5 linked regions of the Homo sapiens genome follow. The protein of the gene in region 4 interacts with the protein of the main gene of each other region in a biochemical or structural test. Each region holds a gene or a part of one and is shown on either strand. Other genes may lie near its edges. The genes, in order: PSMC2, TRPV4, ATXN3, RAD23B and RPA1.

Region 1 (6,710 bases), on a different chromosome or scaffold from region 4:
AACTCCTGACCTCATGTTCCACCCGTCTCAGCCTCCCAAAGTGCTGGGATTACAGACGTGAGCCACTGCGCGCAGCTATTTTAATTTTATTTTTTGAGACAGAGTTTCACTCTTGTTGCCCAGGCTGGTGTGCAATGGCACGATCTTGGCTCAGTGCAACCTTCGCCTTCTGGGTTCAAGCGATTCTCATGCCTCGGCCTCCCGAGGAGCTGGGATTACAGACATGCGCCACCACACCCGGCTTTTTCTATTTTCAATGGAGACGGGGTTTCTCCATGTTGGTCAGGCTGGTTTCCAACTCCTGACCTTAGGTGATCCGCCTGCCTCTGCCTCCCAAAGTGCTAGGATTACAGGCATGAGCCACCGTGCCTGGCCTATCTAAACTTTTTTTAAAAAAGACTGAAGTTTGCTCCCCAGTCCACCAAATTAATCTTGCCAGCCTTAAAATATTAAGTCATTTTCATGATTCTGTATCTATTAAATAGCAATAGGTTTCAGATCTGAAGAGGTCAAATTAATAGTTAAATAAAGGAACCATTCTAATTAGTAAAACTTGAGTAAATAAAAGCATCTGATCTATCACTTGGAATTCCTGATCATTGAATTTGACTTGCAAGTTTTAGTTAGGGAATAAAAGGATACCTCAACTCACGCAGCTCCGTAGCTAATTCTTATTGTAAATATACGAATCATCAACAGGTTTCAGATACAATACATATAGCCCTAGACTTATTCTCTAAATATATATATATATATATATATATATGTATGTCTACAAACATAAAAACAACCTATGTTCTCACTTTCTCATTAGGACTGAAAACACTGCCCCTGAAGTAAAAGTATACTTTTTAATTAATTTACCAGGCATTTCCGTAGAAAAGCCACATCTGTAGAAAATGTCACCCTTTTGAGGAGGGGGCATACTGGTTAAAATTTTAAGTGGTTGCCTATCTCCAAATGACCACAAAGGCAGCTTCTAAACTACTAATTACAATCAAGAAATTTCAGGTCTCAGGCCGGGCGTGGTGGTTCTTGCCTATACTACCAGCACTCTGGGAGGCCAAAGCAGATGGATCACTTGAGCCCAGGAGTTTGAGACCAGCTGGGCCACATGGTAAAACCCCTCTCTACAAAAAATAGAAAAATTAGCTGGGTGTGGTGGCATGTAGCCATGGTCTCAGCTACCTGAGAGGCTGAGATGGGAGGATCGCCTAAGCCCAGAGAGGTAGAGACTGCAGTGAGCTGAGATCATGTCACTGCACTCCAGCCTGGGCAACACAATGAGACTCTGTCTCAACAAAAGAAAAAAGAAATTTCAGGTCTGGATCCCTCAATGCAGAAGTGCCATTTTTAATTTCATTCATACTGTAAAATCTTTCACAAGGCTATATATTCTTTGATAAATTTACTTTACCTCACCGACGTATTTCTGTACAAGCTCAGATCCAATAACTCGAATGAAGCACGCATCAGTCCGATTAGCAACTGCCCGCGCACAGAGTGTCTTGCCTGTACCGGGTGGACCAAAGAGCAGCACGCCCTTGGGAGGCTCAATGCCAAGGTTCACAAACCTCTCTGGCTGTGATAGAGACACAATTTTCACACTTACCACTTCTGTATAACAAAAATCAGACTACTTCTAAATCAACAAAGTGCTTTTATGTTTAGTATTTTATCCTGAAAACCATACTTTAATATTTAAATCAAAATTATTAAGTCCACAATATACATACTTGAACTAAATAAGAAATTTTACTTATTCTAAGACATAAGTTCTAAACTGGACTTCTATCAATACATAAGACTAAATGGCTTTTAAAAAGCACTTCCATTATCCAGTCTTAAAATATTTTCCTAATTTAAAAAAAATTATGGTGTTTAAGGAACAAAATTATCTGGTATTCAGTATCCTAGTTTTCCATTATCCTCCCAAGTTTAACCTGCTTCAATTTAAGCCCCTTTCTTCTCGATGTCTTTTGAAGAACCAGTTTCTTCTATAATAGCCTGTAACATATTTAACATATTGCTAAAGGTTACACTGTGCCTCCTCTGTCACTGTAAACAGCAGATCTTTCTTTTTTAAATATACCTGACCACTCAATCCTTTTTGCTTGCTCTCCCCTAGAACTTACCAACTCTCCACACCTCCTCTCTCCACCCTCTCAAAAAACTCTCATTAGGGAAAATATTAAAAGCCATCTAATATACAAGCAATTTTAGTGCTCAATACACAAAAGACATCTTTATACAAAGAAATTTAAATACAACACTCAGCTACTTACATGAAGTAATGGGGTTTCAACTACTTCTCGCAGTTTCTCAATCTGTTCCTTACAGCCACCAACATCACTGTATGTGACATCAGGTTTCTCTTCCACCTAAGAGAGGGACAGAAATGTACAACATACAGTCACAGGCTTTTTGGATACTGTCCAAATTCAATAGAATAGACCTAATACCTTAAAAGAAAAACTCACAAGTGAGAATTTTAATAAAAATTGAATACATTGCCCAGTGCCCTGGAACTACTTGCTGTATTAACTTGTTATGACACTAATGAATGAAAAACAAACTAGTAAAATAAAGACAGGCTGAGACTCTGTCTCAAAAAATATATATATAAAATACTGCCGGGCTCAGTGGCTCACGCCTGGAATCCCAGCACTTTGGGAGGCTGAGGCAGGCCAAACACTTGAGGTCATGAGTTCGAAACCAGTCTGGCCAACATGGTGAAACACCGTCTCTACTAAAAATACAAAAATTAGCTGGGCGTGGTGGCGGGTGCCTGTAATCCCAGCTACTCGGGAGGCTGAGGCAGGAGAATTGCTTGAACCCGGGAGGCAGAGGTTGCAGTGAGCCAAGATCACACCATTCTACTCCAGCCTGGACAAGAGTGAAACTCCGCCTCAAAAAAAAAAAAAAAAAAAGACATAGCCTTCCTTTTCCCTCCCATAGTTTCTTACCTGCATCATGGTAACTGTTGGGTCAATCTTAGGAGGCAATGGAATGTGAATTTGATATTTATTTCTATCCACGCTAAGGAAGTAAAAAAGATAGTCATTAATACATTCTTTAAGCTTTCAAAGTGCTTTTATGTTTAGTCCTTTATCCCCAAAACCATACTTTAAGAAAACAAGAGAGAGACAGAGTCCCTAATTATATAAAGAGAAATAAAGAGAGCATGAAATCTGAGGATACTAAACTACATGTCTAATGTCGCAAACAACCTATCCAACAGCAATCAAACCTTTGAGGAGGGAGGGGAGATTTTTTTTTAATTTACTAAGTGAGTTGTTATGTATTCTATAGACATTAACACACTTAGCATCACAACTATCCTAAAGCAAGTACTCCCCCAACCTATACCATGTTACCTTAAATGGACTGGTAACCTCAACTCTGAAATTTGAAGCCATTCATAATAAACAACAGTGGGAGTAGGGGAGTCAGCGAAGCCGATGGGAAGTTAGGAAGCAGATGCAGAAGACAGAATTTTCAACTATAGTACATTACTAGATCATCCTTTGGTATTCCAAGGAACTCAGTCCATTTATTCACTACAAAGCCAAGGATATGAATGTGAGACAGTATCCTTAGTGAAAGAAAAGTATTTATTGTAAATAGAAATCTTACCCCACTCTCATCCCTTCTTCAATGTCAGTAGGTGCCACCTGATCACTAAGGTCCACCACAAACTTGGCAAACTGCTTTACGTTGATAATGTATTTTGGGTCCTCCGAATCAGCATTGATTATCTTTGTACACCTAACACAGCAAAAAGCTTGATTAGAATAAGGAACCTAAGCCACTAATAATGAATTCAACTAACTAGATTATATCCTGAGTGTGCAATATACAGGTATAAACTAGAACTACAGAAACTGGGACACTGTTAAAGATCCTTTTCTATACCCAACTCCAAAGGTCCATTCGACTTTAGCCAAGTCATAAAATTTTCAAATACATTCTCCTGGAAAATTAAACCCAAATATCTCATCATTAAGAAGTTCTCTGATTTCTTGATTTCCATAGTTTGTATTCCTTTATTATTAGTGATGCTCCTGTATATCTTAAGTTGCTCTCGTTTTTATTTTCCCTACAAAAAGATGGTCATCTTGTCTTACACCAAATTCAGTAATAAATGGGTTTTCATTCTTTTCCTGAGTTTATACTTTAAATCCGTTTTTCTTTTTTTTTTTTTTTTTTTTTTTGAGATGGAGTTTCACTCTTGTTGCCCAGGCTGAAACACAATGGTGTGATCTTGGCTCACTGCAACCTCCACCTCTTGGGTTCATGCAATTCTCCTGCCTCAGCCTCCCGAGTAGCTGGGATTACAGGCATGCACCACCATGCCTAGCTAATTTTGTATTTTTTTTTTTTTTTTTAGTAGAGAGGGGGTTTCTCTTGAACTCCCAACCTCAGGCTAGTCAGGCTGGTCTCGAAATCCCAACCTCAGGTGATCCGCCCGCCTCAGCTTCCCAAAGTGCTGGGATTACAGGCGTGAGCCACCACACCCGGACTTTAAATCCATTTTTATTGTTTTTGCTACTTTTTTCTTTTTTTAACTGAGGCAGTAGAAGCTTGTTTTTTTTTCTTTTTCTTTTTTTTGAGACAGAGTCTTGCTCTGGAGCCCAGACTGGAGTGCAGTGGTGCGATCTCGGCTCATTACAATCTCCGCCTCCTGGGTTCAAGCAGTTCTCCTGCCTCAGCCTCCCAAGTAGCTGGCATTACAGGAATGCGCCAGCACGCCCGGCTAATTGTTTTGTATTTTTAATATATACGGGGTTTCACCATGTTGGCCAGGCTGGTTTCAAACTCCCGACCTCAAGTGATCCACCTGCTTCGGCCTCCCAAAGTGCTGGGATTACAGGCGTGAGCCATTGCACCCGGCCAGTAGAAGCTATTTTTAACTTAATTATATTCATTTCCATATGGCCTGGTAAAAATGAATTTATAATGCCATGCACATCACAGTATAAAATAGTCAACCGCCTTTCCCCTTCTATAGTATCTATCTACTAAAGAAAAACAAAAACAAAAAACAGAACTCACATTAGAAAGCTGCTACATAAGCCACAGCAAGAATTACAGAGAAATACAAAAATAGCCTGTGGAGTGCGCACATAGGTAGAGCTAAAAGTAAGGTACAGAATGCTTTGGCTTAGCCAGGTGTGGTGGGATGCACCTGTAGTCCCAGCTACTGAGGAGGCTGAGGCTGGAGGATCACTTGAGCCCAGGAGGTCAAGGCTAAAAAAGAATGCTTTGTCCTGATAGCATAATTGTGTGAAGGACTCTGTTTTCTGTTACCAACCATGTTTGCTAGGGAAGAAGAATTATACCCATTCTCTACCAAAAAAAAAGAGGCTGACCAAAAAACCTGAAAGGAAAAACAAGAACAACAAACAGCAATAATACCAAACCCTGGGGAAAGGAAGAATTTGATTTCCAGAGGTGACACATTACATTATTTTAAATGTCTAGTTATCACCAAAAAGTTATGAGATGCAAAACATTATGAAATGCATTTTCCCTTATGTATGACATTATGGCTCATACATAAGGGGAAAAAAATCAGTCAATAGAAATTGTCCCTTAAGAAGCCTAGATGTTGGTGTTATTAAACAAAACTTTTTTTTTTTTTTTGAGACGGAATCTCACTGCTGCCCAGGCTGGAGTGCAGTGGCGCGATCTTGACTCACTGCAACTTCCGCCTCCCACGTTCGAGCAATTCTCCTGCGTCAGCCTCCTAAGTGTCTGGGATTACAGGCGCCTGCCACCACGCCCAGCTAATATTTTTATATTTTTAGTAGAGACAGGTTTCACCATGTTGGCCAGGCTGATCTCAAACTCCCAACCTCAAGTGATCCACCTGCCTCAGCCTCCCAAAGTGCTGGGATTACAGGCATGAGCCACTGCGCCCAGTCAAACAAAAACCTTAAATCAGTACAAGAAATATTTTCAAAAAGCTAAAGGAAACCATATCTAAAGAGTTTATAGGAATGATGAGAAGAATGTCTCACCAATAGTGAATACAGATAGAGAAATTAGACTGGAATATTATTTGGCCATAAAAAGTTCCATCTATTTTAGAATACGGATGAACCTTGAAATATGCTAAGTGAAGGAAGCCATGTACTATATGATTCCATTTAGATGATATGTCCAGGATAGACAAATTCATAGAAACAGAAAGTAGATAAATGGTTGCCAGGGGCTGGAAAGAGACGGGAATGAAGACTGCTAATGGGTATTGGGTTTGTTTTTGGGGTGACAAAAATATTCTATTCTGGAATTAGATAGTGATGATCAATGCACAATTTTCTAGATATTCTAAAAATCACTAAATTGTATACTTTAAAAGAGTGAACCTCATGATATCTGAATTTTATATCAGTAAGATTGTTATTAAAAAAATTCATAAGCTGGCTGGGCACGGTGGCTCACACCTGTAATCCCAGAACTTTGGGAGGCCAAGGTGGGCAGATGGCTTGAGCCTAGGAGTTCAAGAGCAGCCCAGGCAACATGGCAAGACCCTGTCTCTACTAAAAATTAAAAAAAAAAAAAAAAAAAAAAAAAAAAAAAAGCCAGACATGGGGTGGTATGCACCTGTGGTCCCAGCCACTTGGGAGGCTGAGGTGGGAGCCCAGGAAGCAGAGGCTGCAGCGAGCTGAGATCATGTTACTGCACTCCAGCCTTGGTAACAAAGT
Region 2 (6,710 bases), on a different chromosome or scaffold from region 4:
CCAAGGAGGTTACATCACTTCTCTGAGCATGTTTCCTCATCGGTGAGGGAGGATCACACGAGACCACACCAGGCGCACAGGAAGCCCTTGCCGGTCTCCAGATGAGGTCAGGGCATTGGAAAGGCCACAGAAGGAGGCGGGGGCTCAGGGGACAGACAGGCGGGCCATTGACCAAACGGGAATATCCTTCTATTTCTTTGGTTAGTGAGTAACAGCAGCCCCTCTTGTCCACCCACCCTGCCCCTTGCACAAAGAGCTCCTCAGTCTCACCAGGCGCCCGTTTTCCCCTGAGGGTGGAGTGGCCTGGGTTCCACCCGGTTGACCGAGTGGGCTGGCCACCTTCTGGGACCATTCCCTGTGTGTGTGTTTGTGTACGTGTGTATGTGTGTGTATATTGATGTGCGTGTGTATGTGCGTATGTGTGTCTGTGTGTGTATGTGTATGTGTGTATATGTATGTCTATATGTGTATGTGTATATGTGTATATATGTGTATGTGTGTATATGTATGACTATATGTTTATGTGTATGTTTGTGTATATATGTGTGTATGTGTGTATATGTATGTCTGTGTGTATGTGTGTGCATATGTGTATGTATATACATGTGTATGTGTGTATGTGAATGTCTATGTGTGCATGTGTGTATGTGTGTGTATGTTTGCGTGTATATGTATGTATGTGTGTATATTGTGTGTATGTATGTGTATATGTGTGTAATGTGTATATGTATTTGTGTGTAGTGTGTGTGTGTGTGTGTGTTTATGGAGGGTGGGTTCCATGGGCTTTGGGCTGAGACCCCAGCAGGTGAGGGTGGGACAGGGGGCATGGGGTTGACTGACCCATGGGTCTGGCTCACTCCTGTCCCTGCTTGGCACACAGGAGGGGCTCAGGAATACCTGTAGATAGAGTGAAGGGATGAATGAAGGAAGGAATGAGTGACTGGACAAGCCAGCCAGGCAGGGCATCAGAAGGAAGCACCTGCTCAGATACAGGCTCTGGCTCTGAGACCAAGTGTGCTTGAGTGAGTGTCCTGGTCTTGTTGAGCCTCAATTTCTTCATCTATAAAATGGGCTCACGATAGTTGTCCTCATGAGAGGTGTTGGTCTTATAGGCCAGAAAACCCCACACATAGCAGGTGCTCCGTAAGCTGTCTGTTAAAAAATGGATGGGAGGAAGCTAATTAGTTAGCTGGGCAGAGGTTCGCTTTGGAGACCTGTCTGCCCTGGAGAGAATGACTAAGCCCGTCTTTCACTCCTTTCCTCTGTTCATTCATTCATTCATTCATTCATCCAGCAAATACATCTTGAGCAGCTGCTATGTGCCAGGACCTGTTCCAGGCATCTGGGCCTCAGCAGTTACCAGAAGGGAGTCCCTCCGCCCTAGAGCTTTTGTCCGAGTGACATCATTCCACACGCAGTGCTTTGAGGCCACTTTGTGAGACTCTGATACCCACAATGACAAGTAATCCAGCAGTGGGAACTGTGATGAGCTCCCTTTTACAGGTGAGGAAACTGAAGCTCGGAGAGGTCAAGTGATCCGTCTGGGGCCACGCAGTTACTAAATGGCAAAGTCAAGATTCAGACTCCAAGCCTGTCACCACTGTGCCATCTTGTCCTGCTGAGTTCCAAGGGATATGGCGTTGAGAAGGGGGGTCCTAGGGAGAGGGCATGGTAGCCCCCAAAGGGATGAATGAACTCAAATGGATTTAAAAGCAGATGGTTGGAAGTCTAGCCACATTCACTTCCTGTAGCGTTGTGGACTCAGTTAAATCTCATTCTTTCTGATCTTCAGTTTGTTCATCTGTGAAATGATAACAATAACACCGACCTCAAATGAGAGAGAAATGTGAAAGTGCTTAGCATATGATAGGTATTGGATAAATGTCAGCCCTTACCTCCTTTCCCCCGGGACTGACTTTATACATCTGGGAATGGAGACAATAATATTTAATGTCTATAGTTATTATTTGGATTAAAATAGATAGAAGGGGCCAGCCATGGTGGTTCACGCCTGTAATCACAACACTTTGGGAGGCCAAGGTGTGTGGATCACGTGAGCCCGGGCATTGGAGACTAACCTGGGCAGTAGAGTGAGACTCCATCTCTACAAAAAATAAATTTTAAAAGTAGGAATGGTGGTACATGCCTGTGGTCCCAGCTTCTGGGGAGGCTGAGGTGGGAGGATTGCTTGAGCCTGGGAGGTCGAGGCTGCAGTGAGCTATGATTGTGCCACTGCACTCCAGCCTGGGTGACAAAGCCATACCCTGTCTCAAAACAAAAAACAACCAAATGGGAGGTGCTGTGTGAAGTGTGCCATGGAGGGTAGGCATTACTGATGGTACATTGCAGGCATTAGCCTCAGTCATAATTCCAAGCAGTTAACCCCTGAGGCAGCAGCTTACTGTTGGCACAGACTGGTGTTGAGGTGGGCTGGGACAGAGGAAGGATCTCAAACTGGTTTTCTGCTGCCTTGGGCTCCCTTCCCCGACTCCTGCCCCATCCACTCATAACGGGCACCTGCCCTCTTCCCCCTCCTCTGATTTGGCAAACTCGGGACTTTTGCTCCTAGAAGTGGGGTAGAGGAACGTATGCATGGACGAGTGTCCTGTCCCTTCTGGTCCTTAGTCTCCCAGCTGGGAGGCAGCCCTTGTCCTGACAGCCTTCTAAAGGTGACAGAAGATGGAAATGAGGTGGCGAGGAAACCCTTTCCAAAGGTGAGGTCTCTGCAGTCACGAGCCCTGGTTTTGGAGCCGGGAAGTCTGGGTTCCAGTGCCTGCCCAGTTCTGACCTCCCTGGACCTCAATGTCATCATCCCCCACCTCCCACTGCAAACTGAGGGAATGTTAGCAAGAATGGCAAAGCAGCCATTGAACATCCTTATCTGTAAAATGGGGGTAATAATTGCTACGACCTGGGTGGGGTTAAGCTGTATTTGCTCCATAGTTATTTGGTATACAGTACATTCATGCTTTAAACTAAAAAATAAGTTCAAGTTCATTGAACACTTGGTGTTTGTTGGGCACTGCACTGAAGGCTTGAATTATCACATTTAATCCTCACAATAGCTCTTTGGGGTAGGAGCTGTTATTTTATTTTTTAATATTTTAAAAAATAAATAAATTTATTTATTTTTTGTAGAGATGGGATCTCACCATTTTGCCCAGGCTGGTCTCGAACTCCTGGGCTCAAGCGATCCTCCCACCTTGGCCTCCCAAAGTGTTGGGATTACAGGTGTGAGCCACTGCACCCAGCCTTATTTTTTAGTTTAAAGCATGAATGTGCTATACACCAAATAACTATGGAGCAAATACGGCTTAACCCCACCCAGGTCGTAGTAATTATTACTCCCATTTTACAGATAAGGAAACCAAGGCCCAGAGATGAGATGTGACTTGTGCAAGACCATACAGCCAGTGAGTGGCAGATGAGATGTAAAGCATTGATCAGGCAACGTTCTCAGACTATAGAATCCTCTCTGGAGTTCTCCGTGGCTGTGACCATCCTCTAGGAGAGGGGCTAGGCCAGAGAGAAGGCGGGCCTAAGGTTTTGTTTTGTTGAGATGGAGTCTCGCTCTTGTCGCCCCCGCTGGAGTGCAGTGGTGCTATCTCTGCTCACTGCAATCTCTGCCTCCTGGGTTCAAGAGATTCTCATGCCTCAGCCTCCCGAGTAGCTGGGATTACAGGTGCATGCTACCACACCCGGCTAATTTTTGTATTTTTGGTAGAGATGGGGTTTCACCATGTTGGCCAGTCTGGTCTTGAACTTCTGACCTCAAGTGATCCGCCCACCTCGGTCTCCCAAAGTGCTGGGATTACAGGCGTGAGCCACTGCGCCCGGCCGGACTAAGAATTTGATGCCTCCCTCCTCCTGGGCTGGAGCTGAGTAGCATGTTCTCAAGCAGGGCTGGCTGAGAGGGTGGAATCCTGGGGCTATGCTCTGATGGGAAGGAAGCGAGATAAGGGAAGAAGGACCTGGAGCCTCCTGGGGTAGTGACTTTGTATCCTTGAGCTCCTACTACGTGCCAGACCTTGTTTGAAACCCTTTATGTGGCTGGGCACGGTGGCCGACGCCTGTAATCCCAGCATTTTGAGAGGCCGAGGCGGTCGGATCACCTGAGGTCAGGAGTTCGAGACCAGCCTGGCCAACATGGTGAAACCCCGTCTCTACTAAAAATACAAAAATTAGCTGGCGCAGCGGTGGGCACCTGTAATCCCAGCTACTTGGGAGGCTGAGGCAGGAGGATTGCTTGAACCTGGGAGACGGAGGTTGCAGTGAGCCAAGATTGTGCCACTTATACTCTAGCCTGGGTGACAGAGCAAGATCCTGTCTCTCTCTGTCACACACACATGCGCACACACACACACACACACAAGAAAGAAAAAAAAGAAACCCTTTATGTGTGCTTAATCTCCATGACATTCCCATGTTGCAACAAGGAAACTGAGGTTCTGGGAGGGAAGTGACCTGCCTGAGGTCACTAAGCCTGGAAGGGTCATTTAGATGTAATTCACATACTCATAACTCAGTCTTTTAAAACGTACAATTCAGTTGGTTTCTTAGTGTATTCAGAGTTGTACAGACATCAGCACTATCTCATTCCAGAACATTTTCATCACCCCAAAAAAGGACTCTGTACCCATTAGCAGTCACCACTCCCCACTCCCAGCCCCTGGCAACAACTAATCTGCTTTCTGTCTCTGTGGATTTGCCTGTTCTGGGCATTTCATATAAATGGAATCCTGCAATATGTGGCCTTTTGTGTCTACAAGGTGCATGCTCTTAACCATTAAGCCACACCGCTTCTTGGTGGCTCCTACCCAGGGGCCGGGACCCTTGGAAATGACTTGGTCCCTGTGAAAGCTCAGAGGGGCATCTGTGTGTGCTGTCAGCCGGCCTCCCTCCAGCCAAGGGCTTGCAGAATGACCAAATGACTGCCGTGGCCACGCTGGCCTTGCCCTCCGTGGGGCGCGGTGAGTCACCCCAGACCTGCCCTGCCTGGGTGGTGTGAGTGCATGGGGTGGGGGCCCAGCAGGACACTGGGGCTCTGTCTGTCCTGGACAGGCGGCCACTGTGCAGCAAACAGGAAGCGGGCTGGGCCGAGACCTGCTAGGTAAATACAGGCTGGCCAGGGAAGGTGCTGGGCATGGCATGATGCCCCCCTACTGCTGCCGCCTGCCAAGTGCCTGGGAGCCGTGGGGTAGCCTGGCAGGCAGTAGGTTTCGCCTGGCCAAGGAGTTGAGCTCCCAGCCGGCTGTTCCCAGCAGCCGCCACTTCGAGGTGGCTGCCAGAGTCTACCTCCAAGGCTCTGGATCTGGCCGCTCTGCCTTCTCTAGGAGTCATTGCCTTCCTTGGTCCTCAGTCCTTTTGTTCATCTGTTCCCCTAATGATACTAATAAATAGTACACTGATACTGATGATTCCAACAGCAGCCATGCTTGACTGAATGCATGCTCTGTACCAGGCACTGGGCTCAGTGTTTTGCATGCTTTATCTCATGTAACCCTCACGACAGTTCCCTTGGGGTAGGTGCTAGGATCATTGCCATTTTTCAGGTGAGGAAACCGAGGCATGGGCAGGCCAGGTGACTTGCCCAGAGCTGGTGAACTGGTGGTTCGTCAGGGACTGCGACCCATCCCCCACTCCATTCTTTCTCCAGCTTCTCCCTCCCAGAGTTCCCTTGTCTTTGTAAAGTGTCCATCAAAGGCGCAGGTCCCGGGGATGCATGGGTTCTAATCCTGCCTCCCCCTTTCTGGAGCAAGGCAATGCCAGACAAATGACTTCGCCTCTCTGAGCCTCAGTTTTCTTACCTGGAAGGTGGGGAGGGGGTGGACAGGTCTGGGATTTTCTCTCTAGTAACAGCAAAGCTCAGAGTCCTTGTCTTCCTAGTACCTTCCTATCCACATGTCCCCGGCAAGACTGATTTGGAATGGCAGGCACTCACAGTTGTGTTTATTTGAGGGTACCACAGGAAGTGGGGGCCCCCAAATTGGCTAAGGAGCCCCAGGGTGGAGGGAGGTAGAAGCACACTGGGTCTGTCTGGGAGCCTGAGCACCTTCTCTGTGGGCTCCTTCCTACCCATGGATTCCAACCCCCACCCACCTCCCCACTGCCCACCCACTCACCCATCTCTTCTGCTTTCCTTCTCCCTGTGCCCCAGGCCACACCATTCCTCTGTGCACCCTGCACTTTCCCCTCTACACCTTTGTCCTTGACACCTCCTCTGCCCTTTATCTTCCTCCTCCTCCTCCTCACAGCCTTTCCCCCTCCCCATCAGGATTCTGGCTGCCCTTGCTCTGCAACCCTGCCTGGAACTTCAGGTCCCTGATCTTACAGCCTAAAAAAACCAAATATTCATTGACACCTCATTTTGCTTCAGCACCATGCTGAATGCTGGGGACACAGGGGACACGAAATAGTCCCTACCACATGGAACTAAAACTCTGGAGGTGAAGAGAGAAGATGAATCAAAGAATAATATATAGGCCGGGTGCGGTGGCTCACACCTATAATCCCAACATTTTGGGAGGCTGAGGCAGGTGGATCATCTGAGGTCAGGGGTTCAAGACCAGACTGACCAACATGGCAAAACCCTGCCTCTACTAAAAATACGAAAAATTAGCCGGGTGTTGTGGTGCATGCCTGTAATCCCAGCTACTCGAGGAGGCTGAGGCACGAGAATTGCTTGAACCCAGGAGGCGGAGGTTGCAGTG
Region 3 (3,500 bases), on a different chromosome or scaffold from region 4:
ATACTCAAAAAGGGAAAAGAAAAACTAGAAAATCGTATGAATAACAAATCAGCACCAGGGTCAATTTGGGAAGGGTGAGAGGGAAGAAAGAGTTAGCTTGATAACCTTAGACCCAAGCTCCCAAAGACAGAACCTAGAGAGACAACGAACTACCTAGGCTAAGTAATCAGGAATTTTAGTGAAAGGCAAATATTAGCTTCTTAGCTCCTACTAATGAGCTCTACAAGGTTTTGAATGCAAGCCATTGTTAAAAATGAACATCAAGAAGTTAGTTCTTAACTCTTCTCAGCAACATGTGACTATGTAAGATATTCTCAAGCTCTTTCCAAATTCTCACCAGTATTTGCAAAGTCAAGCCAAGAGGCTGAAGCTGGTAACCATCACTGCACACTTTCCTCCTCAATCAATCCTCCACCAAGTAGGAAGGAGGTATATCGATATTCGAACATTTTTAAAAGGGTACAAGGTTGCCTGACCCTGTTTACTAAAAAGCACTAGTTATTGCTGACATTGTACTTGTTATAACTTACTTAGTCATTATTGGACATTACTGAATTATCGTTACTACTATAAAAAGTTCAGGCCGAGTGCAGTGGCTCATGCCTGTAATCCCAGCATGTTGGGAGACCCAGGCTGGCAGATTGCCTGAGATCAGGAGTTCGAGACCAGTCTGGCCAACATGGTGAAACCCCCTCTCTACTAAAAATACAAAAAAATTAGCCCGACGTGGTGGCATGCGCCTGTAATCCCAGCTACTTGGGAGGCTGAGGCAGGGGAATTGCTTGAACCAGGGAGGTGGAGGTTGCAGTGAGCCGAGATCGCGCCACTGCACTCCAGACTGGGTGACAAAAGCGAGACCTCGTCTCAAAAAAGAAAAAAAAAAAAAAAAAAGCTCAATTTGTTGGAAGTTTCATATTTTTAATCCAGTTTTTAAAAAATTTTAAGTAAAAGAGCAGTTTATTTTTATGCTTTAAATATACTTTTCTTTTCTTAGATATACCTGTAAATTTTGTATTATAGTTTCTCTATGATGTATGTCTTTAGACCATTTTATTTTGACAAAAAAGACTCTGATGGCTGGGCGCGGTGGTGCACGCCTGTAATCCCAGAACTTTGGGAGGCCGAGGTAGGCAGATTGCCTGAGCTCAGGAGTTCGAAACCAGCCTGGGCAACATGGTGAAACCCCATGTCTACAAAAGACACAAAAATTAGCCAGGCATGGAGGCACTTGCCTGTAACCGCAGCTACTTGGGAGGCTGAGGCAGAATAATCGCTTAAACTCAGGAGGCGGAGGTTGCAGTGAGCCGAGATCATGCCACTACACTCCAGCCTGGGTGACAGAGTGAGATTTCGTCTCAAAAAAAAAAAAAAAAAAAAGTCTGAAATAAACATGGTGAAAGTATCACATGGGAATTATTCTGGAAAGCAATTTAGAAATCTGTTCCAAGGCCTTAAAAATGTTCATATCCTTTAACCCAATAATCTGACATCCTCAGAAAAACTAGAAGAAATGATAAGACATTTGAGGTGTAGAGGCAATATAAGAATTGTTCATTGCAATATTAATTATAATAGCAGAATTCAAAAGGCTCACATATAAATTATGCCACATCCATTCATTTTATGAAATATCATGCAGCCTGTTACAAAGACTATTTACTGTCATAGGAAATGAGTACAACACTTACAAGGTAAGTGTGTATATGTCACAGAAAAAGAATGTGCCAAAATACTAACATCAGTCACTGAAGGAGGTGAGAGTATGCTTTCTTTTTTTTTTTTGAGACAGAGCCTCGCTCTGTCGCCCAGACTGGAGTGCAGTGGTGTGATCTCTGCTCACTGCAAGCTCCACCTCCCGGGTTCATGCCATTCTCCTGCCTCAGCCTCCAGAGTAGCTGGGACTACAGGTGCCTGCCACCACACCCAGCTAATTTTTGTGTATTTTTTAGTAGAGACGGGGTTTCACTGTATTAGCCAGGATGGTCTCCATCTCCTGACTTCGTAATCTGCCTGCCTCGGCCTCCCAAAGTGCTGGGATTGCAGGCATGAACTACCGCGCCCAGCCTTTTTTTTTTCTTTTTGAGACAGTATCTCGCTCTGTCACCCAGGATAGAGTGCAGTGGCACAATCTCGGCTCACTGCAACCTCCACCTCTGGGTTCAAACGATTCTCCTGCCTCAGCCTCCAAAGTAGCTGTGATTACAGGTGTGCACCACCATGCCCAACTAATTTTTTTGTATTTTTAGTAGAGACAGGCTTTCGCCATGTTGGCCAGGTTGGTCTTGAACTCATGGCCTCAAGTGATCTGCCTGCCTCAGCCTCCCAAAGTGCTGGGATTACAGACATGAGCCACTACGCCTGGCCATGTATGCTTTAATTTCTATATTTCTTTTCTCTTTTTTTTTTTTTTGAGGCGGAGTTTCACTCTGTCACCCAGGCTGGAGTGCAGTGGGGTGATCTCAGCTCACTGCAACCTCTACCTCCTGGGTTCAAGCGATTCTTCTGTCTCAGCCTCCTGAGTAGCTGGGATTACAGGTGCCCATCATCATGCCTGGCTAATTTTTGTATTTTTAGTGGAGACAGGGTTTCGCCATGTTGGCCAGGCTGGTCTTGTACTCCTGACCCTCCTGACCTCAGGTGATCCGCCCACCTCAGCCTTCCAAAGTGCAGGGATTAGAGGCGTGAGCCACCGTGCCCAGCCAATTTTGATATTTCTTAAAATAAAATTTTTAGAATGTTAGTTTTTCTAATTAAGTAGATTTAAGTTATTTTTTATTATTTATTTATTTATTTATTTGAGATGGAGTTTCACTCTTTTTGCCCAGGCTAGAGTGCAATGGCACGATCTCGGCTCACCGCAACCTCGCCTCCCGGGTTCAAGTGATTCTCCTGCCTCAGCCTCTCAAGTAGCTGGGATTACAAGCATGCGCCACCACGCCTGGCTAATTTTTTGTATTTTTAGTAGAGATGGGGTTTCTCCATGTTGGTCAGGCTGGTCTTGAACTCCTGATCTCAGGTGATCTGCCCACCTCAGCCTCCCAAAGTGCTGGGATTACAGGTGTGAGCCACCGCGCCTGGCCTTAGATTTATTTTTTACATTAACTAGATAATTGATGATATAGAATTACAATTAATTATTATGATTATTATTTTATGACAATAGCATTTAACTATGTTAAAAATAAAGCTAATATATTTTAGAGACACATATTAAAATGGTTATAGAATAATATGATGATTGAGATTTGTTACAAAATAATCCAAACTTGCAGGTGGGACAGTGGAAAGAATGGGAGATGGGAGTATTATAAAACGAGATTGGGCCGGGCTCAGTGGCTCATGCCTGTAATCCCAGCACTCTGGGAGGCCGAGGCAGGTGGATCACTTGAGGTCAGGAGTTTAAGGCCAGCCTGGACGACATGGTGAAATCCCGTGTCTACTAAAAATACAAGAATTAGCCAGGCATGGTGGTGTGTACCTGTAATCCCAGCTACTTGGGA
Region 4 (6,710 bases):
CAGGAACAACTTTTAGTACTTTTTATTTTGATAGAACACACACAGGAGACAAGTTTCTAGTATTATTTTATAACGTTGAGTGCCAAGGGCAATTATAGGAAAGTTTGGTTCATATTACAGTCAGCGTTCTGCACTCCCTGCCTTTGCTAATAGGAGTAATTTTTGCCGTATAAAACTTGCAAGTTGGTACAGTTGGAAGATTTCATCATTATTTACTTCATTTTATTACATCTGAGAACTCAAATCATTTTTTCTTTGATAGTGTTTGCTGTCTAAATGTATTATTTAACCACTGTTTGTGTATGTATTTACTGCTTTTGTTTAGAAATGTTTATGTGTATTTTAGGACATCCCCTTGAATTTTTACGGAATCAGCCTCAGTTTCAACAGATGAGACAAATTATTCAGCAGAATCCTTCCTTGCTTCCAGCGTTACTACAGCAGATAGGTCGAGAGAATCCTCAATTACTTCAGGTGACTAATCAGTGTCAGTTTCACAAGTGATTTAGAGTGTGTCACAATTTGAAAAAGTCCATGAACGGTCCTTCCCCTCCTCAAATACAACTCTGTATTTGAGAATGTGAATGTTTTCTTCCAAGCTACACTTAGATATTGTAATCTAGATAGGTGTACTAAAAAAACAGTTGGGATATGGAGGTTGGGTTAAATTAAGTTGACCAAATAGTAGTAAGTTTGGGAAACATTTTATATTTCCTTTTTGGAGATTCCCACTACACATTAATATGTTAAAGAATTTGGGAAGCTGTTTAACAGAGAAACTGCCTAACTTTAAATCACTTTTCACAAGCTTATTACTCAGTTCCTTTTTCTTAGGAACTTTTAAGCAACAGGAACAACTTACTCTTAGAAAAAATAGCTGTGGGGCTTCTTTAGTGATCAGATCACCAAGTATTTGAATTTTATACAGCATTTTAATGCCCACTAGTGTGGAAGGTAAAAAATACATGCAAGTATTAAGAATAAGTTCTATTCTTATAGTCCCACAGTAGTTTTTTTTGTTTGTTTTTTGTTTGTTTTGTTTTTTTAAGCACAGGAGGCTCAGAGCACTTAAGAATTTGAATTTCTTCACTGTTTACTTTGCCCAAAAGTACTGAATTTCTTTACTATTGTATAAGAAATCACATCCTTCCAAAGACTGAATAATCCAGAATCACTAAATTACGTTTGCAAAAGTGTAGCCTTTTCTCTTAGTAATATTTAGAATTTCTCTGTTCCTGCAGATACTTAATATCAGTGTATTATTTTTCTCTGTCCTTCATATCACCACAGCAAATTAGCCAACACCAGGAGCATTTTATTCAGATGTTAAATGAACCAGTTCAAGAAGCTGGTGGTCAAGGAGGAGGAGGTGGAGGTGGCAGTGGAGGAATTGCAGAAGCTGGAAGTGGTCATATGAACTACATTCAAGTAACACCTCAGGAAAAAGAAGCTATAGAAAGGGTGAGTTTAAGTAAAACTTTAAAAAAATTAGTTCTTGGCTGGGCTCATGCCTGTAATTCCAGCACTTTGGGAGGCCAAGGCAGGTGGATCACCTGAGGTCAGGAGTTCAAGACCAGCCTGGCCAACGTGGTGAAACCCCATCTCTACTAAAAATACAAAAATTAGCTGGCGTGGTGGCACATACCTGTAATCTCAGCTACTTGGGAGGCTGAGGCAGGAGAATTGCTTGGACCTGGGAGGTGGAGGTTGCTGTGAGCCGAGATTGTGCCACTGCACTCCAGCCTGGGCAACAGAGTGAGACTCTGTCTCAAAAAAAAAAAAAAAAAAAAAAAAAAAATTCCTTAGTCACACTAGCCCCATTTCAAATGCTCAGAAGTCACATATTAATAATAAGGTTTTTCTATAATTTCTTTCAATAGTGTCCTGTAGTTTTCAGTGTAGAAGTTGTGTAATACTTTTGTTAAAATTATTTCGAAGTATTTTTATTCTTTTTGATGCTGTTATAAATGGATTTTTCTCTTAATTTCATTTTCAGACTGTTCATTGCTAACTATATAAAAATACAATTTAATTGTGTATATTGATCTTTTATCATAAAACCTTCTTGAACTGTTATTTATTCATTAAGTAGTTTGTGCATGTGTTCATTAGGATTTTCCATATACAAGGTCATGTCATCTGCACATGGAGACAGTTTTACTTCTTTTCCAATATGGATACCTTTTATTTCTTTGTCTTATTTAACTGCCCTATCTGGAGCCTCCAGTATATTATTAGACTAGCAAGAACCAACAACATCCTTGTCTGGTTCTTGATCTTAAGGGAAAGCATTCAGTCTTTCATCACTAAGTATGATATTATCTATGGGTTTTTTGTGGATGCCCTTTATCAGATTGAAGAAATTCTCTTCTGTTACTAGTTTGTTCATCACGAAAAGGTGTTGGATTTTGTCAAATTTTTTTTCTTTCTTTATTAAGATGATCATGTGATTTTTGTCCTTTAGTATGCTTTATTACATTGATTGATTTTGTATGTTGAACCAACCTTGCATTTCTGAGATAAATTTTACTGGTTACAGCATATGATCTTTTTTATATGTTGCTGGATTTAGCCTGCTTGTATTTTGTTGAGGATTTTTGCATCTGTTCATAAGTCATATTGGTCTGTAGTTTTTTTGTGATGTTTTTGTCTGAATTTGGTGTCTGGGTAATACTGGCCTCTTAGGGTGAGTTGGGAATTATTCTCTCCTGTTGTCTGGAAGTATTTATTAAGAATTGGTGTGGGCTAACACGGTGAAACCCCGTCTCTACTAAAAATACAAAAAAAATTAGCCAGGCGTGATGGTGGGCGCCTGTAGTCCCAGCTACTCGGGAGACTGAGGCAGGAGAATGGCGTGAACCCGGGAGGCGGAGCTTGCAGTGAGCCGAGATTGCGCCACTGCACTCCCGCCTGGGCCACAGAGCGAGACTCTGTCTCAAAAAAAAAAAAAAAAAAGAATTGGTGTGAATTTTTTGAATAGTTGATAGAATTCACCAGTAGTCTGGTCCTGGGCTTTTTTTGGGGGGAAGTTTTGTGATTATTGATTCAGTCTCTTGTTACTTGTCTATTCAACTTTTGTATTTCTTTTTTTTTTTTTTTTTTTTTTTTGAGACAGAGTCTCGCTCTGTTGCCCAGGCTGGATTGCAGTGGCGTGATCTCCGCTCATTGCAAGCTCCACCTCCTGGGTTCACACCATTCTCCTGCCTCAGCCTCCCGAGTAGCTGGGACCACAGGCACCCGCCACCATGCCCGGCTAATTTTGTTTTGTATTTTTTTAGTAGAGACGGGGTTTCAACATGTTAGCCAGGGATGGTCTCGATCTCATGACTTCGTGATCCACCCGCCTCGGCCTCCTAAAGTGCTGGGATTACAGGCGTGAGCCACTGCACCCGGCCAACTTTTCTATTTCTTTTAGAGTCAGTTTTGGTGGTTTTTGACTTGGAATTTGTCTATTTTATCTAAGCTGTCTAATTTGTTGGCGTGCAATTGTACATATTTCCTTATAATCATTTTATTTCCTCTTTTGATAAAGTAATAATGTTCCTGCATTTATTCCTGATTTCAGTCATTTGAGTCCTAAGATATTTTTGTTTTTTCCCTTCAGTTTAGCTAAAGGTTTTAATTTTGTTCATTTTGTGGTGGTTGTTGTTAATGACAAAAATAACTTTGGGTTTTGTTGATTCTCCCTATTGTTTTTCTAGTCTTTTGTTTTGTTTTGTTTTAAGTCTCTCTAATGTTTATTTCCCTCTTGCTTGCTTCTAGTTTGTTCTTCCTTTTTTAGGTTAGGTTTAGTTTAGTTCTTTGTTTAGTTTTAGTTTAAGATTAAATTATTATCTATCTTTGTTAGCATAGATGTTTATAGCTATAATATTCCTTCTGCGTTTATGCTATAGTAGCATCCCATAAGTTTTAGTATGTTGTATTTTTGCTTTCTTTCATCTCAAAATGTTTTTTAATTTCCCATTTGGTTTCTAATTTAATTCATTCGTTATTTAGGATTGTGTTAATTTCCACAAGTTTATGAATTTCCCACATTTTCTCCTTTCGATTTCTAAATTCATTCCATTATAATCAGAGAATATACTTTCAATACTTTTCAACTTATTGAGGTTCGTTTTGTGGCCTAACATGGTATTTCTGAAGAATGTTCTATGTATACTGAAGAAGAATATAGTGTAGTTCTTATTAAGTGGTCTATAAATATCTGATAGATCTAGTTTGTAGTCAAGTCTTCTTCCTTAGCTGTTTTATCTATTATTGAAGGTGGAGCTGTAGTTGTCTCTATTATTGTTAATTGCCAATTTCTACCTTTAATTCTCAGTTTTTATTTTATGTATTTTGTGGCTCTGTTATATATAATTGTTGTGTCTTCCTGAACCCTTTTTATCATAAAATGCCTTTTGTCTATAGTAACAATTTTTATCTTAAATCTGTTTCCTCTGATATAGCCATTCTAGCTCTTTTTTGGTTACCATTTGCATAGTATATACCTTTTTCTATCATTTTACTTTCAACCTACTTGTGTCTTTGAATCTAAATTGTGTGTTTTGTAGAAGCAGGCAGTTGGATTGTACCCTTTACTTCACCTATCCTAGCTTTAATCTGGATAAAACCCAGATAACAAACTGATTTTTTAGTTTCTTCTGCTTTCATAGATGAATAGTTATTCGTGATGAATTGGGATTTTTGCCCAAATTTTAAGGGTTATTTCCAAATATAATCTGACACAGCAGTCTTTAACCTTTTTGGCACCAGGGACCAGTTACGTAGAAGACCTTTTTTTCTACCAACATAGGTGGGGTGGGCGCAGTGATTTTGGGATGAAACTGTTCCACCTCCGATCATCAGGCGTTAGTTAGGTTAGGAAGTGGGGTGGGGCGGTGGTTTTGGGATGAAACTGTTTCATCTCACATCATCAGGCATTTGTTAGGCTATCATACGGAGCACAGACCCTAGATCCCTCTCATGCACAGTTCACAGTAGGGTTCATGCTCATATGAGAATCTAATGCCGCCACTGATACAACAGGAGACGGAGCTCAGGTGGTAATTCGAGTGATGGGGAGTGGCTGTAAATACAGATGAAGCTTCACTTGTTCGCCCACTGCTCACCTCCTCCCGTGCGGCCCAGTTCCTTGCTCACCCACTGCTCACCTGCTCCTGGGCAGCCCAGTTCCTAACAGGCCAATGGCTGGTGCCAGTTCACGGTCTTGGGGTTTGGGACCTGTGATCTAACTCAAGGTGATTGAGACAATTGAGGAGGGTGACATTTGGCTGAGTTTTTAAAGGCTTTTAAAAGGAGTGAGTATTGTCACAAGTGATTTTTAATATAATAGACTAGGAAAATGAAATTAAGTAGCTGGTATTACCATTTAAAATGCTGTAACTGTTAAGCAGATAAAAATAGAACATTATCTTCAAAATGTACCATGTATTACTAATAATTGGTCACCTGTTTTTCTAGTATGGAGTGTTGAATAAAGCAAGGAGATTGAGAGTGATGTTTGATCCAAATGAAAGACATGAGTTGACATTAATAAATAAAACATAATTTGCTTTTAATTTAGAAATAGGTGAGGTGGTTAAACTATACTGCAGGTACTCTCATCCTTATCTTCACTCTTAATATACTAAAAGCCATTTGATTTACATATTTCTGTAGAGTCATTTATTTTTAAACCATAGCAGTTAGCAGCTAATTTTTAATTAGGCCAAAGAGTATTTGCATAGTATCTATTAAGCTTTAACTAGAAACAAAGACTTTTTTAGGTGATTAGTAAAGGAAAGGGTCTAGATTCCATCTAATCCCTTGGGTTGGGCAGTAAATCCATATTGATAGAGATGAATTCATGTAAAATTCTCAAGAGCTTTTTTGGGTTGCAGTATGTTTTTGAGTAATGATTTATCTTTAGTGCTATGCTGGAATCTATAATATGTAAATAAAATTAAATGTGCCATAATTGGTGTGTTGGATTTATATTTTTTTCCTTTTTCTTCCAGTTAAAGGCATTAGGATTTCCTGAAGGACTTGTGATACAAGCGTATTTTGCTTGTGAGAAGAATGAGAATTTGGCTGCCAATTTTCTTCTACAGCAGAACTTTGATGAAGATTGAAAGGGACTTTTTTATATCTCACACTTCACACCAGTGCATTACACTAACTTGTTCACTGGATTGTCTGGGATGACTTGGGCTCATATCCACAATACTTGGTATAAGGTAGTAGATTGTTGGGGGTGGGGAGGGAGGGATCTAGGATACAGGGCAGGGATAAATACAGTGCATGTCTGCTTCAATTAGCAGATGCCGCAACTCCACACAGTGTGTAAAATATATACAACCAAAAATCAGCTTTTGCAGGTCTTTATTTCTTCTGTAAAACAGTAGGTAACTTTTCCTAGGTTTCACTCTTTTTAGTGTACTAGATCCAGAAACTTAGTGTAATGCCCTGCTTTATATTTCTTTGACTTAACATTGGTTTCAGAAAGAATCTTAGCTACCTAGAATTTACAGTCTCTGTTTCATGGCAACACTGGATAATGGCTTTGTGAAATTTAAAAAATTTTTGTAGCGACTGTAAACAGAAATGCCAAATTGATGGTTAATTGTTGCTGCTTCAAAAATAAGTATAAAATTAATATGTAAGGAAGCCCATTCTTTCATGTTAAATACTTGGGGTGGGAGGGGAGAAAGGGAACCTTTTCTTAAAAT
Region 5 (6,710 bases), on a different chromosome or scaffold from region 4:
CTTCGGGAGGCTGTGGCGGGCAAATCACTTGAGCTCAGGAGTTTGAGACCAGCCTGGCCAACATGGTGAAACCCTGTTTCCATCAAAAATTTAAAAATTAGCTGGGCGTGGTGGCGCATGCCTGTAATCCCAGCTGCTGGGGAGGCTGAGACAGGAGAATCGCTTGAACCCAGGAGGCGGAGGTTGCAGGGAGCTGAGATCGCACCACTGCACTCCAGCCTGGGCGACAGAGTGAGGCTCCCTCTCAAAATAAAAAATAAAAAGATTAAAAAGGAACAGATAAAACTTCCTTTATTTGTAGACAATATGATCGTTTACATAGAAAATCCTAAGGTATCTATAAAAACTAGTAAGTTGATTTAGCAAGTTTGCAGGACACAAGGCTGGTGTGGAATAATCACTTGTATTTCAATATACTAGCAATAAACAACTGAAGAATGAAATTTTCAAAAATGCCACTTAAACACCATCAAAAGAACTTTCTTTATTTTATTTTATTTTTTTTGAGACGGAGTTTCGCTCTGTCGTGCTAGAGCGTGGTGGTGCAATCTCAGCTCACTGCAACCTCTAATGCCCGGGTTCAAGCAATTCTCCTGCTGCAGCCTCCCGCGTAGCTGGGGTTACAGGCATGCACCACCACACCTGGCTAATTTTTGTATTTTTAGTAGAGACAGGGTTTCACTACGTTGGCCAGGCTGGTCTCAAACTCCTGACCTCTGGTGATCTGCCCGCCTCAGCCTCCCAAAAAGTGCTGGGATTACAGGCGTGAGCCACCGTGCCAGGCTTCAAAAGTAAATTATTTAGGGATATATTTAACAGTATACATATGTAAGAACTGCACACCGAAAACTACCAACAAGGCTGCAAACGGCGGCTCTTGCCTATAATCCCAGCATTTCGGAGACGGAAGCAGGAGGATCGCTTGAGCTCAGGAGTTCGAGACCAGTCGGGGCAACAGAAGGAGACCTGTCTCTATAAAAAATTAGCCAGGTGGTGGCTCACGCCTGTAATCCTAGCACTTTGGGAGGCCAAGGTGGGAGGATCACGAGGTCAGGAGATTGAGACCATCCCGGCTAACACGGTGAAACCCTGTCTCTGCTAAAAATATAAAAAATTAACCGGGCGTGGTGGGACGTGCCTGTAGTCCCAGCTATTTGGGAGGCTGAGGCAGGAGAATTGCTTGAACCTGGGAGGCGGAGGTTGCAGTGAGCTGAGATCGCGCCACTGCACTCCAACCTGGGCAGCACAGAAAGAATCCATCTCAAAAAAAATTAGCCAGGTATGTGGTGCACACCTGTAGTCCCAGCTACTCAGAAAGCTGAGGAAGAATCACTCGAGCCCAGGAGGTCTAGGCTGTAGTGAGCTGTGATTGCACCACTGCACTCCAGCCTGGGTGACAAAGCATGACCCTGTCTCAAAACAAACAAACAAACGTCTGTTTTCATTTTCTTTTTCTTTTTTTTTATTGTACTTTGTTTCTCTATACTTCAGTGTATGCAAAGGGATCAGCACTTTGGGAGGCTGAGACAGGAGGATCGCTTGAGGTCAGGAGTTCGAGACCAACCTGGCCAACATGGTGAAACCCCGTCTCTACAAAAAATACAAAAAGTAGTTGGGTGTGGTGGCACATGCCTATAGTCCCAGCTACTCGAGAGGCTGAGGCAGGAGGATTGTTTGCATCTGGGAAGCAGAGGCTGCAGTAAGGTGAGATGGCACCACTGTACTCTACCTGAGTGATAGTAAAGCCCTGTCTCAAAAAAAAAAAAAAAAAAAAAAAAACTAGCTGGGCGCAGTCGTCCCAGCTACTCAGAGGGTGAGGAGGGAGGATCACTTGAGCCAGGGAGATAAAGCTGCAGTAAACTATGATCATGTATGTCACTGCACTCCAGCTTGGATGACTAAGTGAGATCCTGTCTCAAAAAAAAAAAAAAATGAAGCTAGAGGCCAGGCACGGTGGCTCACGCCTGTACTCCCAGCATTTTGGGAGCCCAAGGCAGGTGGATCACATGAGGTTGGGAGATCAAGACTAGCCCAGCCAGCATAGTGAAACCCCGTCTCTACTAAAAATATAAAAATTGGCTGGGTGTGGTGGCGGGCACCTGTAATCCCAGCTATTCAGGAGGCTGAGGTAGGAGAATCGCTTGAACCCGAGAGGTGGAGGTTGCAGTGAGCCGAGATCTCACCACTGCACTCCAGCCTGGCGACAGAGCTAGACTCCATCTCAAAAAAAATAAAAAATAAAAAATAAAAATGAAGCTGGAGAATTTACAATGCCAGATTTCAAGATTTACTATAAATCTTCAATGTTTATGATGATGTGGTATTGACATAAGCACCAACATAGAAATCAATTGACATTCCAGAAACAGATACACATATACAGTCCATTGATTTTATATAAAGTGACTAAGGGGCCGGGCGCAGTGGCTCACGCCTGTAATCCCAGCACTTTGGGAGGCCGAGGCAGGTGGATCACGACGAGGTCAGGAGATTGGGACCATCCCGGCTAACACGGTGAAATACCGTCTCTACTAAAAATACAAAAAAAAATTAGCCGGGCATGGTGGCGGGTGCCTGTAGTCCCAGCTACTCGGGAGGCTGAGGCAGGAGAATGCTGTGAATCCGGGAGGTGGAGCTTGCAGTGAGCCGAGATCGTGCCACTGCACTCCAGCCTGGGTGACAGAGCGAGGCTCCATCTCAAAAATAAAAAATTAAAAAAATAAATAAATAAAGTGACTAAGTAACTCAATGAAATGGGATAGTGTTTTCAATAAACAGGGCTGGAACAACTGAATATCTGTATTTAAAAAAGAGCTATATATCATAGATAAAATAGTAAACTTGAAATGCATTACAGACCACAAGGCAAAGCGAAAACTATAAAACTTCTGGAAGAAAACACAGCATAAAAGATTTGTGACCTTGGGTCGGGTAGGCAAAGATTTCTTTTTTTTTTTTTTTTTTGAGACTGAGTTTCACTCTTGTTGCCCAGGCTGAAGTGCAATGGTGCGATCTTGGCTCACCACAACCTCCACCTCCTGGGTTCAAGTAATTCTCCTGACTCAGCCTCCTGAGTAGCTGAGGTTACAGGCATGCGCCACCACGCCCGGCTAATTTTGTATTTTTAGTAGAGACGGGATTTCTCCATGTTGGTCAGGCTGGTCTCGAACTCCTGACCTCAGGTGTTCTGCCCGGCTTTGCCTCCCAAAGTGCTGGGATTACAGGCGTTAGCCACTGCACCCTGCTGTTTTTATTTTATTTATTTAATTATTTTTTTGAGACGGAGTTTTGCTCTGTTGCCCAGGCTGGAGTGCAGTGGTGCGATCTTGGCTCACTACAAGCTCCGCCTCCCGGGTTCACGCCATTCTCCCGCCTCAGCCTCCCGAGTAGCTGGGACTACAGGTGCCTGCCACCACGCCCAGCTAATTTTGTATTTTTAGTAGAGACGGGATTTCTCCATGTTGGCCAGGTTGGTCTCGAACTCTCGACCTCAGGTGATCCGCCCGCCTCAGCCTCCCAAAGTGCTGGGATTACAGGCATGAGCCACCACATCCAGCCTAGCAAAGATTTCTTAGGACACACAAACACAACTCTGCAAAAAACAAAACAAAAACAAACAAAAAAACACAACCTGATAACTTGGACTTCATGAAAATTTAAAAGTGCACTTCAAAAAAAACAAAATTTCAAAAAAGAAAAGGCAAGTCACAGATTGGGAAAAAATATATGTAATATTTATATTTAACAAAAGACCTAGCAAGAATCAAGAATTCTCACAACTCATTAATAAGCACAAAACCCAATTTTTAGGTGAACAAAAGATGTGAACAGACACTTCTTTCGTGAAGATATACAAATGGCCAGTAAGCCCACGAAAAGATGCTCAACGTCACTAGCCACCAGAGAAATACAAATAAAAGCACAGTGAGATACCATTACACATTCACTAGAATACTCGAAATCAAAGACTGATGACTGGCAAGGATATGGAGCAACTAGAATTCTCATGATCACACTGGAAAAGGTTGGCGATTTCTTTTACACATTCAGTTACCTGTGACCCAGCAATTACATTCCTAGATATTTATCCCAGAGAAACGAAAACATATTTCCACAAAAAGAGTTGTACTTAAATGGTCATAGCATCTTCATTTATAATAGCCAAAAGATGAAAATAACCCAAATGTGCAATAATAAGTAAATAAACAAATTTTGTTATAGTCATACAATGGAATACTACTGAGCCATAAAAAGGTGCAGATTACTGAATTAACATGGGTAAATCTCAAAAACCATTTTGGTCCACAGTGGTGGCTTGTGCCTGTAACCCCAACACTTTGGGAGGCCAAGGTGGGAGGATCACTTGAGCCCAGGAGTTCAAGATCATCCTGGACAACACACCAAGACTCCATCGCTACAAAAAATATTTTTAGGCCGGGCGTGGTGGCTCACACCTGTAATCCCAGCACTTTGGGAGGCTGAGGCGGGTGGATCACGAGGTCAAGAGATCGAGACCATCCTGACCACCGTGGTGAAGCCCCGTCTCTACTAAAAATACAAAAATTAGCTGGGGATGGTGGCATGCGGCTGTAATCCCAGCTACTCGGGAGGCTGAGGGAAGAGAATCGCTTCAACCCAGGAGGCAGAGGTTGCAGTGAGCTGAGATTGCGCCACTGCACTCCAGTCTGGCAACAGAGCAAGACTGTGTCTCAAAAAAAAAAAAAAAAATTTTTTTTTAATTAGCCAAGAGTGGTGGCATGCACTTGTAGTCCCAGCTACTCAGGAGGCTGAGGTGCGAGGATCTCTTGAGTTCAGGAGGTCAAGGCTGGAGTGAGCCATGACTGTGTCGCTGCACTCCAGCCTGGGTGACAGAGACCCTACCTCTGGGGAAAAAAAAAAAACTGCTGAAAGAAGCCAGACACAAAAGGATAGATATTATTTGATTCCATTTATATGAAGTCTTAGGAAAGGCAAAACTAACCTACAAAGGTAGAAACCAGAACACTGGTTGCCTAGGGTGAGGATGGAGGTGGGGAAGGAGCAAGAGGAGTTGTGCGTTGATGGAAGTATTCTATATCTCCACAGGGGCAATGTGGTTACAGGGGTGCGCACATTTGTCAAAGTTCATCAAGCTGTACATTTAAAATACGTGCAATTTGGCCGGGCATGGTGGCTTATGCCTGTAATCCCAGCACTTTGGAAGGCCAAGGCAGGAGGAGCATCTGAGGTCAGGAGTTCGAGACCAGCCTGGCCAACATAGTGAAACCCCATCACTATTAAAAATACAAAAATTAGCCAGGTGGTGGCGTGCACCTGTAACCCCAATTACTAAGGAGACTGAGGCATGAGAACTGCTTGAACCTGGGAGGCAGAGGTTGCAGTGAGCTGAGATCACGCCACTGCACTCCAGGGTGACAGGAGGAAACTCTGCCTCAAATAAATAAATAAATAAATAAAAAAGGTGCAATTTACTATACGTAAGCAAAATGTCAATGACAGTGATTTTTCTAAAAAGCAGTTATTCTGGGGAACAGTACTGGACAAGGTAAGGCAGGAGGTCAGTAATTACATTAAACACCTCTTTCTTTCTTCTTTCTAAATGAAATAGAGACAGGATCTTGCTATGTTGCCCAGCCTGGTATCAAACTCTTTCTTGGCCTCAAGGGATCCTCCTGCATTAGCCTCCCCAAGTGCTGAGAGTACACATGTGAGCCACCATGCCCGGCCATGAACACCTTTCTGTTCCGTTTGATTTTAAAACCACGTGCATGTATGAGGGGGATTCAAAAAGTACACGAAAAATGTGCATTATGAAAAAACTATGCATGCATTTCAAAAATTTTTTTTGCACTAAAATAAACTCATACTAACTTGTTATAACATGTCTGAACAAGACCTAGTTTGAGGTACTAAGAAGGATAAGACATCAGTTTGAAAAGAGCCCCTATCAGAGCAACATGAATTCTGCTAAAATGGAAACAACAACAAACAACAAATTCAAGGGGAAGGTTGGGTGGAAGAAGGATGAGATCACTTATGAAAGAAAAGTATATGGGGACGATGCTCCAAAGAAATCAGCTGTTTACAAATGTAACTCATTTTAAGGGACAAGGCCAGGCACAGTGGCTCATGCCTATAATCCCAAAGACTTGGGAGGCAAGGCAGGAGAACTGTTTGGAGACCAAGAGTTAGAGACCAGCTTAGGCAAGATGGCGAAACCCCATCTCTACACAAAATTAAAAAAAAAAAAAATTAGCTGGGCATGGTGGCATGCACCTGTACTCCCAGCTACTGGAGAGGTTGAGGTGGAAGGATCACTTGAGCCCAGGAGTTGGAGGTTGCAGTGAGCTATGATCATGCCACTGCACTCCAGCCTGAGAGACAAAGAACAAGACTCTGTCATTTAAAAAAAATTACGGCCAGGTGCAATGGCTCAAGTCTGTAATCCCAGGACTTGGGGAAGCCGAGGCGGCAGATCACTTGAGGCCAGGGGTTCAAGACCAGCCTGGACAACATGACGAAACCTCATCTCTACTAAAAATACAAAAATTAGCTGGGCGTGGTGGCGCACGTCTGTAATCGAGAGACAGAGGCAAAAGAATCACTTGAACCTGGGAGGTGAAGGTTGCAGTGAGCTGAGATTGTGCTTCTGCACCCCAGCCTGGGCAACAGAGTGAGACCCTTTAAAAAAAAAATCCCTAGTAAGTATA

What was found.
Region 1: the proteins of RAD23B (region 4) and PSMC2 form a complex in vitro, tested with the Homo sapiens proteins (one study listed by BioGRID).
Region 2: the proteins of RAD23B (region 4) and TRPV4 interact in a test that uses a peptide from one of them, tested with the Homo sapiens proteins (one large-scale study listed by BioGRID).
Region 3: the proteins of RAD23B (region 4) and ATXN3 form a complex in vitro, tested with the Homo sapiens proteins (one study listed by BioGRID).
Region 5: the proteins of RAD23B (region 4) and RPA1 form a complex in vitro, tested with the Homo sapiens proteins (one study listed by BioGRID).

The regions. Positions count from the first base shown.
Region 1 is NC_000007.14:103,359,015-103,365,724, reverse strand, and holds part of PSMC2 (26S proteasome regulatory subunit 7), read right to left. Parts: intron 3,769-6,710; coding exon 3,637-3,768; coding exon of another isoform or gene 3,633-3,636; exon of another isoform or gene 3,258-3,632; intron 3,040-3,257; coding exon 2,967-3,039; intron 2,382-2,966; coding exon 2,286-2,381; intron 1,583-2,285; coding exon 1,418-1,582; intron 1-1,417. UniProt on the Homo sapiens protein: Component of the 26S proteasome, a multiprotein complex involved in the ATP-dependent degradation of ubiquitinated proteins.
Region 2 is NC_000012.12:109,821,603-109,828,312, reverse strand, and holds part of TRPV4 (transient receptor potential cation channel subfamily V member 4), read left to right. Parts: intron 1-710; exon of another isoform or gene 711-1,503; intron 1,504-6,710. UniProt on the Homo sapiens protein: Non-selective calcium permeant cation channel involved in osmotic sensitivity and mechanosensitivity. Activation by exposure to hypotonicity within the physiological range exhibits an outward rectification.
Region 3 is NC_000014.9:92,075,583-92,079,082, forward strand, and holds part of ATXN3 (ataxin-3 reference isoform), read right to left. Parts: intron 1-3,500. UniProt on the Homo sapiens protein: Deubiquitinating enzyme involved in protein homeostasis maintenance, transcription, cytoskeleton regulation, myogenesis and degradation of misfolded chaperone substrates.
Region 4 is NC_000009.12:107,323,544-107,330,253, forward strand, and holds part of RAD23B (UV excision repair protein RAD23 homolog B), read left to right. Parts: intron 1-346; coding exon 347-474; intron 475-1,290; coding exon 1,291-1,461; intron 1,462-5,999; coding exon 6,000-6,113; 3' UTR 6,114-6,710. UniProt on the Homo sapiens protein: Multiubiquitin chain receptor involved in modulation of proteasomal degradation. Binds to polyubiquitin chains.
Region 5 is NC_000017.11:1,834,858-1,841,567, reverse strand, and holds part of RPA1 (replication protein A 70 kDa DNA-binding subunit), read right to left. Parts: intron 1-6,710. UniProt on the Homo sapiens protein: As part of the heterotrimeric replication protein A complex (RPA/RP-A), binds and stabilizes single-stranded DNA intermediates that form during DNA replication or upon DNA stress.